Linked DNA regions of Homo sapiens: region 2 is linked to region 1. The links come from fine-mapping of genetic effects on gene expression. A gene starts in region 1. The other region holds a variant in brackets. All regions are shown on one strand. Distances are from middle to middle.

Region 1 (5,379 bases):
TAATGCCTATAATCCCAACACTTTGGGAGGCCAAGATGGGTGAATCACATGAGGCCAAGAGTTCGAGACCAGCCCGGTCAACATGGTGAAACCTCATCTCTACTAAAAAAAACAAAAATTAGCCAGGCGCTGTGGGACATGCCTGTAATCCCAGGTACTCGAGTGGCTGAGGGACAAGAAGCACTTGAACCCGGGAGGCGGAGGTTGCAGTGAACAGAGATCACACTGCTATGCTCTAGCCTGGGCGACAGAGGGAGCCCCTGTCTCAAAAAACCAAAATAATAATAACAAATTAACCTTAGATTACTGTAAATTTACGTTATAAACTTGGAAATTCCTTTTTCTTTCCTTTTTCTTTTTTTTTTTTTTTTTGAAATGGAGTCTCACTCTGTCTCCAGGCTGGAGTGCACTGCCACAATCTCGGCTCACTGCAACCTCCGCCTCCCGGGTTCAAGCGATTCTCCTGCCTCAGCCTCCCAAGCAGCTGGGAGTACAGGTGCGTGCCACCACGCCCGGCTAGTTCTTTCTCTGTAAGATGGGGTTTCACCACGTTGGCCAGGATGGTCTTGACCTGTTGACCTCGTGATCCGCCCGCCTCGGCCTCCCAAAGTGCTGGGATTACAGGTGTGAGCTACCACGCCCAGCCTAACTTGTAAATTCTTTAAATGTTTGACTCTTTTGTAATAACACTTAGCTTAAAGCACACATTATACAACTGTAGAAAATATTTTCTTTCTTTATATCCTTCTTATGTAAGTTTTTTCTATTTTTAAAATTTTTATTTTTTTTTAAGTTTTTTGTTAAAAACTAAGACACACACACACAAAAAAAAAAAAAAAAACTAAGACACAAACACACGTATTAGCCTAGACCTGCACAGGGTCAGGATCATCAATATAACTGTCTTTCACTTCCACATCTGGTCCCACTGAAAGGTCTCCAGGGCAAAAACACACATCTCCTGTGATAACAATGACTTCTTCTGGAATACCCCCTGAAAGACCTGCCTGAGGCTGTTTTTTAAACTTTTTTTTAAGTTTTACTGTTTTTTTAATAAGTAGAAGGAATACACTCTAAAATAATGATGAAAAGTATAGTGTAGTAAATACATAATGCAGTAACAGTCATTTATTACCATTATCAAGTATTGCATACTACACATAATTGGTATGTGCTATATTTTTATACAACTGGCAGCACAGTAGTTTGTTTACACCAGCATCACCACAAACACATGAGTAAAGTATTGCGCTAGACAGCTACAAGGTCACTAGGCAACTGGAATTTTTTTAGCTCTATTATAATCTTATGGAACCACTGCTGAATACATGATCCATCGTTGGCTCAAACACTGTTATGCAGTGAATGACTGTACTTAATTTTATAATCAGTATGATCACAATTATGCAAATATTTGTTACATATGCATAAAAAGACTAGAAATATGAAAATGTTTATCTTTGGCTCATGTATTTATAAATCATTTTTTATACATTGATATATTTTCCAAGCCTTCTAAGAATGGAATCTTTGTACAGATTAAAAAGTTACAATAAGTGTTATTGTTGTTTTTAAATTTCTACCCAATGTTGCTTCCTGCAGAAATTATTCTGTGACCACTCCAAGAGGACTTGGAAGCCCCTCCTCAGTGTTCTCCTAGTATCCAATAGTATCCTCTACCATTCACTAAGCACACTGGATTTTAATTGTTTGCTTATCTAACGCCCAATACTTGGAACTCTTCAGAGAAAGAGACTGATTCTCTAATCCCTGAATTCCCAGGCCTACCACATACACTAAAGCACTCCTAAGGTCTGTGGACCAGATGAAGAAATCAGATGAGTAGGGGTACGCAAACCCAGGCATTCCCATTCTAAACCCAGTCGCATTGCAATCCCTGCAACAAAAGGGATCCGAGATTTCCTCCACTGGTGACTGTGACCTGGGGACTGGGAAGTACTGTATACAGGAAGATCTTGAAGAGCTGTCCCCTTGAATAGTCAGCACCAGGGTTGCACGGAAAGTAATAGCTGAAATCCAAGTTGGGTTTTCCTGGCAACAGCCAATATTAGTCAGAGGTGGCACTTGGAGGATTCCCCAGGTCTGCTCATTCCTTTAGGATCATTCATTCCTCCCAAGGCCTCCCTTGGGAACAAAGGAAAACCCCAGAGTTTGGGATTGGGCTCTTTTCCACCAACAGCTGCTAGTAGTTTGTATTTAACCCTGAGTCACAATTAAAATAAAAGAGGGCGGGCGGGGGAGGGGCGAGGAGTTGGTAAGCATCCCCTAGGAAACACTTAGGTTTTCTCTAAATTTATTCCAGAAAATTCTTCTAAAGGACTTTTCAAGGACCACAGCATACTGCCTTGGAAACTTAGTTTTTAACCTTTTTCTTTTCTTTTTTTCTTTTTTCTTTTTTTTTTTTTTTTTTGAGACAGAGTCTCACTCTGTCACCCAGGCTGGAGTGCAGTGGTGCGATCTCGGCTCACTGCAACCTCTGTCTCCCAGGTTCAAGCGATTCTCATGCCTCAGTCTCCTGGGATTACAGGCGCGCATCACCACTCCCGGCTAATTTTTGTATCAGTAGAGACAAGGTTTCACCATGTTGGCTAAGCTGGTGTTGAACTCCTGACCTGAGGTGATCCGCCCGCCTCGGCCTCCCAAAGTGTTGGGATTACAGGCGTGAGCCACCGCGCCCGGCCAGTTTTTAACACTATTAGCCACACTGAAACTGAACTATTGATCAAGTGACGCCACACAAAGGGGTAAATCCCCTGTTCAACAAAGGGTTTGTGACGCCCCTGGGTGCTGACAAGCCAAACCGCACCCTCCCTGCGGCACCTCGCGGGCCGGTGGGGCGGGAAGCCCGGCTTCTGGGGAGGTGCCGCCCCTCCACTGGCGCAGGCCGCCGAGACCCCCAGACGGACCTCCTAGGGCTAATCTGATAGTGCCTCTGAGGTCGATAGGACTCCACGTGCCACTCCCTGCAGGGTCATCCAGCAAGTAATTCCTAGACCCGTAGGTGGCCGCAGAGCCGGTTACCTCTGGTTCTGCGCCAGCGTGCCCCACCCGCAGGACGGCCGGGTTCTTTGATTTGTACACTTTCTAAAACCAAACCCGAGAGGAAGGGCAGGCTCAGGGTGGGGATGCCCTGAAATATTCGAGAGCAGGACCGTTTCTACTGAAGAGAAGTTTACAAGAACGCTCTGTCTGGGGCGGGCGAGGCCTCTGCGAGGCGGGTCCGGGAGCGAGGGCAGGGCGTGGGCCGCGCGCCCGGGGTCGGGGGAGTCGGGGGCAGGAAGAGGGGGAGGAGACAGGGCTGGGGGAGCGCCCTGCCGAGCGCCCGCCAGGCTCCTCCCGCTCCCGCGCCGCCTCCCTCTACCCACCCGCCGCACGTACTAAGGAAGGCGCACAGCCCGCCGCGCTCGCCTCTCCGCCCCGCGTCCAGCTCGCCCAGCTCGCCCAGCGTCCGCCGCGCCTCGGCCAAGGTGAGCTCCGCCCGGCCCACGCGCCCCTCCTGGGTAGTCCCCAGGCCCGGACCTGCTGCCCGGGGAAAACCCTGCACCCGGCTTCGCGGGGCGTCCGGAGCACCGCGGGGCTGGGCGGGGAGCGGCTGGTGGGGAATCCGCTGCTCAGTGCTCCGGGCCACACCCAAACGAGGCCAGCAGCGCCCCTCCCCGGCCCGGGCGCGGCCGCCCCCAGACCCACGCGGACCAGAGGAGGGGGCACTTGTTCTTTAGGAGGGGACCGTGGTATTGGTGCGCCTGAACCTCTTCCCTCCTCCCTTTATGTTTGCGTTGCTTTACTCCCACCTTTCCTACTTTCCCACTCGTCTCTCGGGTTACCGAATCCCTCCTACACGCCCCTGCCCTGGCTGGCGTGTTTCTTGGTGGGTTCCGCTCGCAGGCCGGGTCTGCATGTTCGTAGCCTGCTCCCGGCTGTACCGCCCAAGTAGGCGCGGGTAGGACGAGTAGGCAGCTGGGGCGTCCCTTCCGTAACCCTTAGTCCGTCGGCCAAACAGGCGTTTCTGGTCGGGGCTTCCTGTTGTCTGCTCGACGGAAAGGGTCTTCCTGCTGAGGGAGGGAGGTCCACTTGTTTTCTTTCTACAGCAGTTTGGCTGGGGTTTGTGGGAGAGGGCCCTGTGTGACGTGGTTTCTCTACTGAAAGGGTTCCCTTGCTGTCTTAATAAGTGGAACCAGAAAGAGATGGAGGAAGAGCAGGCTTGATGAAGGATCTTCCAATCATAGATTAATTTGGCCCGGTGCAGTGAAACAGACAGACGTGCCTTTGGTACTTGGTTCACCACCTGTGCTTTGGCCGAAGGAATGGCGCTGCCCCTAGCCGTGGACACTGCTGCCTGTCCAGCCTCAGTCCAGCTCTGCCTAAGTGAAACCAGGAGCTCTGCCTTGTTGGCTGGGGTGGAATGCAGAGCGCTCCAAGCCAGGCCAGCACAGGGGAGCCCTAAGCCAGATTCTGGGATGCATTAAGCCCACCCCGTTTTCTGCCCCCACCCAGTTCCGTCTCTGCGGGAGCTTCTGCAGGGCGTGGTTAGCACAAAGGGCTCCAGGATTCTCCCAGTGGTCTGAGGCCTGTGACTCAGCTGTGAGACCATGTGGGTGTGGCCGGTTGCAGATACTCTCGGTGGATGGTTTGGACAGAACACTCCCTGAAGGAAAAGGAGAACTGTGCCATCTCAGAGGGCATTTTCCAAGAGGAAGTGAGTCACACCTGGTCTGGCTGCCAGTCTGCAGGAGAGGTTTCTCGACTGAACTGCCGGTGAGGGCAGTAATTAGATCTGCAGGGCCTTGGCGAGACCGCTTTTCGTTATCGGCCAGTATGCGCCTGGCAGCCTGCCTCAGCCTTACTTGGGAGGTAGCTTTTCCCGCTAAGAGGTTTGCAGTTGTTGCGGATATTTTTCCCCAGAAGCTTGAGTTTCAGTCTCCAGGAATGGAGTTTTATGTTGTGCGTTTTAGGTGAGGCCAGGCTCATGGAAACACCCAGTCGGTGATCTTTGCCTCCAACATGTTTCAGCAAATTGCAAAAGATAATGCCAGGGGTTGGAGTGGGAATGAGTTCATATAACTTATTGGAAGTTTCTTCATCGGCCCTGCCCCCACAGATTCCTATCCAGTTTCTCTTTAATCATCCCTTCCAAATGGTGTATTTGTTCCTTCACAGCCAGAGGATAGTTTCTTCACTGTGGCCCTTGATCCACCATTTGGAGTTTCTTATCTAGGTTCTTACAATTTTTTTGGTCTACTGGGCATGAAGCAATTTTTGGGTCTTACCCTGCTTTCTGGGTGATGCTCTTCCTAGCTTTTCTCCGACACATCATATAGGCCCCTTTCCTCCCGTGTGCTGGCCAGCCTCCTAAGCAGC
Region 2 (5,379 bases), 31 kb before region 1:
AAAGAGAGTTTTTAAAGGCAAATGTTCTGGTATCGCTCCCATGTGTAAAACCAGGCATTGGACCTTCTGAATATACAGGATTCCCTGGAGCACTCAAGAGCCTTTGTGGTCTGCTCCCTGCCCACCTTGCCAACCAAGGCTAGAACTGATGTCACAGTGATGTGCCTCTTTGCTTTGACACACGCTCTTCTTGCTGCCCTGAAAGGCCTTGGCCGCCTTTCCACCTGTTTCTACTTGCCCTGTAGAGCAGTGTAAGTATCATCTCCCCAAGAAGGCCTTTCCTAAGACCCCTATCCAAAGCTGATTTTAATGCTCTTATTCTATGCTCCAGAGCACTCCATTCTTGCCTCTATCATAGCACTTGCCACTCTACTTACAGTGTTCTTACTTGTCTGTCTTTTCTAACTTGACTTTGAGCTCAAGAACAGAGACCTAATTAAAGGCATCTTTGTATTGCTAGGACTTAATGTGGTACCCAGCATATAGTAGCAAAAAAAAATTGTTGAATGAAAAAAATATATGATACATGAATAAGCGATAAGAGAATGCTATACCAGATGTGGGACATACCATGTATATCAGTCTGGGTTCCCACAGGAAACACATGCACACTCAAACGGGTCACTGAAGAGAATTTAAGGAATGCACTATTTATGAAGATGTAAGAGATAAGATAAATAACAAGAGATGGCAAAGCACCAGGACTAGCAAAATTAGGATGCTGTTCCCACCTCTCAGCCTGACTGGCAAGGGAGAAATTATTGGAATTCAAGAGCCATATAGCCCAGGAAGAGGGGCCACTCACGGATGCTGTGGCCTTAGATGTAGAAATACAGCCACTGTCAAACCACAGCCTGGCAGGAGGGACCCCGGGGAATAAATATTGATTTCTCTCTCTTCCCACCTTCTGATCGCCTGCAAGTGCCTCCTGTTGGTCCACCCTACTGGAAGTCTGAGCTGGGCAGAGAAGCACCAAAAGTGGAGCTGGAGGAGCAAACAGAATATCCAGCACACTGCAGAAAGCTGAGATTGGTATTCTTCTACCGCATGGCTACTCCTGCCACCAAGGGGAACACAGAGTAAAGTGACAACACTAATTCAGGTAGACTTTTTTTGTGTGTGTATTTTCTTGAGTTATTGAAAATTTTAAATTTTTTTATTATGGTTAAATATACAGAACATAAAAATTTAACACTGTTACCATTTTTTAAGTGTACATTTTAGTAGCATTAAGTATATTCACATTGTATAAACATCACCACCAATACCTCCATAACGTTTCCATCTTCCCAAACTGAAAGTCTGCATCCATTAAACAATAACTTCCCTCTCTCCCCTCACCTACCTCCTGGTCACCATCATTCTACTTTCTGTCTCTATTCATCTGACTACTCTAGGTACCTCCTGTCAGTGGAATTATACAACATTTGTCTTTTTGTGTCTGACTTATTTCACTTAGCATAATGTCTTCAAGATTCATTTATGTTGTTGCATATGTCAAAATTTCCTTCCATTTCAGGGCTGAATAATAGTCCATTGTGTGTATATTTGTGTGTATGTGTGTGTGTGTGCCACATTTTGTTTATCCATTCATCTATTGATGGACACTTGGGTTGCTTCCACCTTTTGTTATTGTGCATAGTGCTACAATGAATGCAGGTGTATAAATAATGATTTAAGTCTCCGGGAATACAACCCAGAAATAGAATTGCTGGATCATATGGTAATTCTATTTTTAGTTTTTGAGGAACCACCATACATCTTTCCACAGTGGCAGCACCACTTTATATTCCCACCAGCAATGCTTACAAGGTTTCCAAAGTCTCCACATACTCACCAACACTTGCTATTTTCTTCTTTTTAAAATAATAGCCATCCTAATGAATGTGAAATAGTATCTCATTTTGGTTTCCTTTCACATTTTCCTAAAGATTGGTGATGTTAAGCATCTTTTCAATGTGCTTATTGGCCATTTGTATATCTTCTTTGGAAAAATGTCTATTTGATTCTTTTGCCCATTTTGTATTGGGTTGTTTGGTTTTTGTTGAGTTGTAGGAGTTCTTTTTATATTCTGGGTATTAAGCCCTTATTAGATATGTGATTTGCAAATATTTTCTACCATTCTGTGGGTCGCCTTTTCACTCTATTCATAGTGTCCTTTGATGCACAAAAGTTTTTCGTTGTGATGAAGTCCAATTTATATGTTTTTTTCTTACATTTCCTGTGGCTTTGGTGTCATATCCAAGAAATCATAGCTAAATCCAATGTACATTTTTTTAATGAAGAAAAACAAGAAGAAAAAAATCAAGCAAATATCTATCTCTTTTGATGGAGATTTGGGCCATGGTGGTAGGACTTCTGCCAAAATTTAGTATGCAGCAGATATAGAAAGCCCCTTTCCTACCGCAAATAATGCTGGATAACATAGAATCTTCCCCTTCCCCTCAAAAAGTTAAAATACTTGGTCAATTAAAAGGCAGAAAGAGAATTATTCAGGTGCCGGAAGCACAAAGGGAACTGATAGCTGTCACGGTGCCCCAGAGCGGAGGCCACGTGGCCCAGGCCATGGTGGAGAACTAGAACTGAACTCTTAGTGAAAAGAGAGAGCTGCTAAAGAGCTGCCCTGTCACTGATGGAGACTGGAAAGCTCAGTCCACCACCTCTCAAGACACAGAATGAGCCCTGGAGCGAGGCAAAGTCATCTGAGAGAAATCAGAGCACTGCACCTGTGTTCCCAGAAGGCATGGGGTTCAAACACATGCTATTAAAGAAATAAAACAAAAACTACCCCAGAGTTGTAAGCGCCATAAAACCCTAGACAAATGCAAAACCACCTCGTGGAGATGCCTCCAGACATTTGGAGGATGTCCACAGGAGATAAATACACTTAGAATAGGCTCACAGGCACACGAGGGATGACAAGTACATACAACAGACTAGAGACTTCACACTGAGTAACAAGAGGGAGAGCAATCTGGAAGGATGTTAGCATGAGTGTGTTTAAAATGGTCAAATAAA[T/G]CAATAGATCAAATGCATAAAACAAGAACAAAAGTATATATATATAAAAAAAGAACCAAGTGTATAATTGAAATATACAGCCGTGCAAATGGACCCTGAAGCTGGGCATTCCACCACCAATTTGTGACCCAGCTCCGGCTATAGGGGAGAGGATCCCTCCCTGCCCCCCTGCACCTCAGGAAGACTTCATTGACTCACTGCACCCACCCACCTTACAATGACCCTATTGTACCATCCAGCAACCTGGTGAGAGATGTGTTGGGAATTCAGGCAGAGAGACTGAGAGGACCACACCTGTGCAGCAACCGTGATAATTCATGCTTTGTTTCTTGGCCCTCCCTAATCTCCTAAATCTCTCCCAGTCACCACCAAGAAAGAAGACTGGGAGGGAGAGGCAAGTCTGCACTGGCCGCAAACTGGATTCTGAGTGATTTGAGCTGCCTGTAAAGTTAGACAGTGGGGGCAGAGAGAAGCATCAGTAGTCCTGGTTCCCGGCCCCACCTCTCTCCACCGAGAAAAACGTTTCTGTTACCAGATTCATATTTTACCCTCACAATGACTTAGTGTCAACATTATCATTAAACATGATCCGCAGAGTCACTAGGGATTCTGGTAGGAATGCAAGCAAAGACAATGACTCCGGAAAGTTGCAAGTCCAGTCTGTAAAGAGACTAACTTCTGGCAAGGGAAGAAACACAAATCTGAAAGTTGGGAAAAGTGTAATTATCACATAGGAAGCAAAGGTTGCTTCATAAATGCTAGCTCACCGTTCTCCTCATCTCCTCACTACTAAGCATCCTCAGCTCCCTGCAACAAGGCTGCTTTCTCCTCCCCATTGCTGAAATTGCTTTCCCCAGAATCAAACAAGTCCTTACCTACCATATAGCCAAATCCAGCAGGCTATTCTCAGCCTTCATTGTCCTTGATGCTTAGCACTGGTAGATGTGGTTGACGGCCCCACCCTCTTGATGCCTGCAGAGGTGGGCTCCATGTGGCAATGAACTGAGGATTGCTCACAATGGAGCCCCTAGCCCAGAGCAGGGCCTGGCACCTAATAGGCACCCTGTGAATGCTCAGTGAAAGAAGGCATCCACTGCAAGGTCCTGGGGAACAAGGAATTCCAATGTGGCCCATATATTTTAAGTCATAGAGGATCCTAGATGTAAAAGGCCTTCAAAAGTGGCCACTCTTTTAAAGCATTATACTGGCAGCTGAGCCATGTTTCCCCATCATGGACACATCTAGAGGGCACTGCCTAAAACCATACACATCTACGCCCCTCCCCAGGAATGTGCAGGGGACTTAGCCTGGGGCATATGGGTGGGCAGAGGGGGGTGAACGATGAAAGCTGAAGAAAAGAAAACAGGTGGAAGGGGCCAGCAGGGTGGGAACAGAGAGAAAAAACAAAGCGGGGCAGGGAACGGAGGGCAGATGGGAGAAGAGAGAGAGAGATACAGATCTAGCCACTGAGGAAAAGGTCAGAAGAGAACACTGTCCTCTACTGAAGTAAAATGACTTCCACCTGACCATGGCACTGCAGGTCGTGGGCAGCACACGCTGGTCATGCTGCGATGTTTAGGACCCATGGCATCTTCCCTTCAAATCCAAATCATAATAGAGAGAGGACTCTGTCCTCATTGAGCCGGCAATATCATGGGATATTGATGCAATATGTATATTGCATAGATATATGCAATATACATATCTGTATGATCATTTCATCAATTCCTTCTCTTCAGGCTTCGCACCTCCCTGATGAGCCAGGTGACACAGACATAACAGAAGATTAAACAGAGAGGGATTGGACCTCAGGGAGTCCTAGCTAGTTTTGACAGGAAGCATAAGAGAGTGGTCCCAGAAAGCAAACAGGAGGTTCCCTTTAAGAGGGAACAGGCACTCCTCCACTCTCTGCAACAGAGCATGGCTGCTATGGGAGCCAAAGAGGAAGACAGCAGCTGGTGTTCATTGCACTGGGCAGATAGGAGCTGAGGAGGATGGAGACTCAGCTATCCCTGTATGGTACAGACATGACACTCAGCACACACAGAGAACCATAACAGCTGCCACACCCTGTGTCTAAGCTGGGTTGAATTTAACATATTGTGGCCAGGGGAATGCAGGCTTTTGGCCCAATGTAGACGCCAGAGAGAGTGTGCCTCCTAGATCTTTTTCATATGTTACCACCCATTATTGCTCCTGATTATTCAGTGTTACCTGGGGGCACGTGATTCCCGCACTTTCTCAGCCTCCTCAACGTAAACATCGTCATCCACATCTTCATCATTTTCTGTAAATACAGGAATGTTCATTCAGATATTTCTCACTTCACATTCTGCAAGCATAGTCAGCCCAATGTGTGCA

Direction of the effects. Positions count from the first base shown, and alleles are read on the strand shown. Sizes are in standard deviations (SD) of each study's normalised expression.
With allele G in place of T in region 2, the expression in aorta of the gene that starts at base 3,381 in region 1 is higher (small effect, 0.29 SD a copy in GTEx).

Evidence for each region. PIP is the estimated chance that this variant, and not a neighbour inherited with it, causes the effect.
Region 2: its variant is the best candidate, but not a certain one, in a credible set for the expression of S100A10 in aorta (GTEx, PIP 0.59).

Annotation. Positions count from the first base shown.
Region 1 is chr1:151,991,861-151,997,239 of GRCh38, reverse strand. It overlaps S100A10 (S100 calcium binding protein A10), which reads left to right and starts at 3,381. Exons shown (of 3, transcript NM_002966.3): 1 at 3,381-3,488. RefSeq lists silencers at 2,954-3,083, 3,214-3,263, 3,274-3,573 and an enhancer at 4,142-5,341.
Region 2 is chr1:152,022,363-152,027,741 of GRCh38, reverse strand. LOC105371442 (a long non-coding RNA gene) reads left to right here and starts at 154. Exons shown (of 3, transcript XR_001738235.2): 1 at 154-251; 2 at 923-1,102. It also overlaps the pseudogene NBPF18P. The variant T/G (reference allele first, on the strand shown) is at 3,019.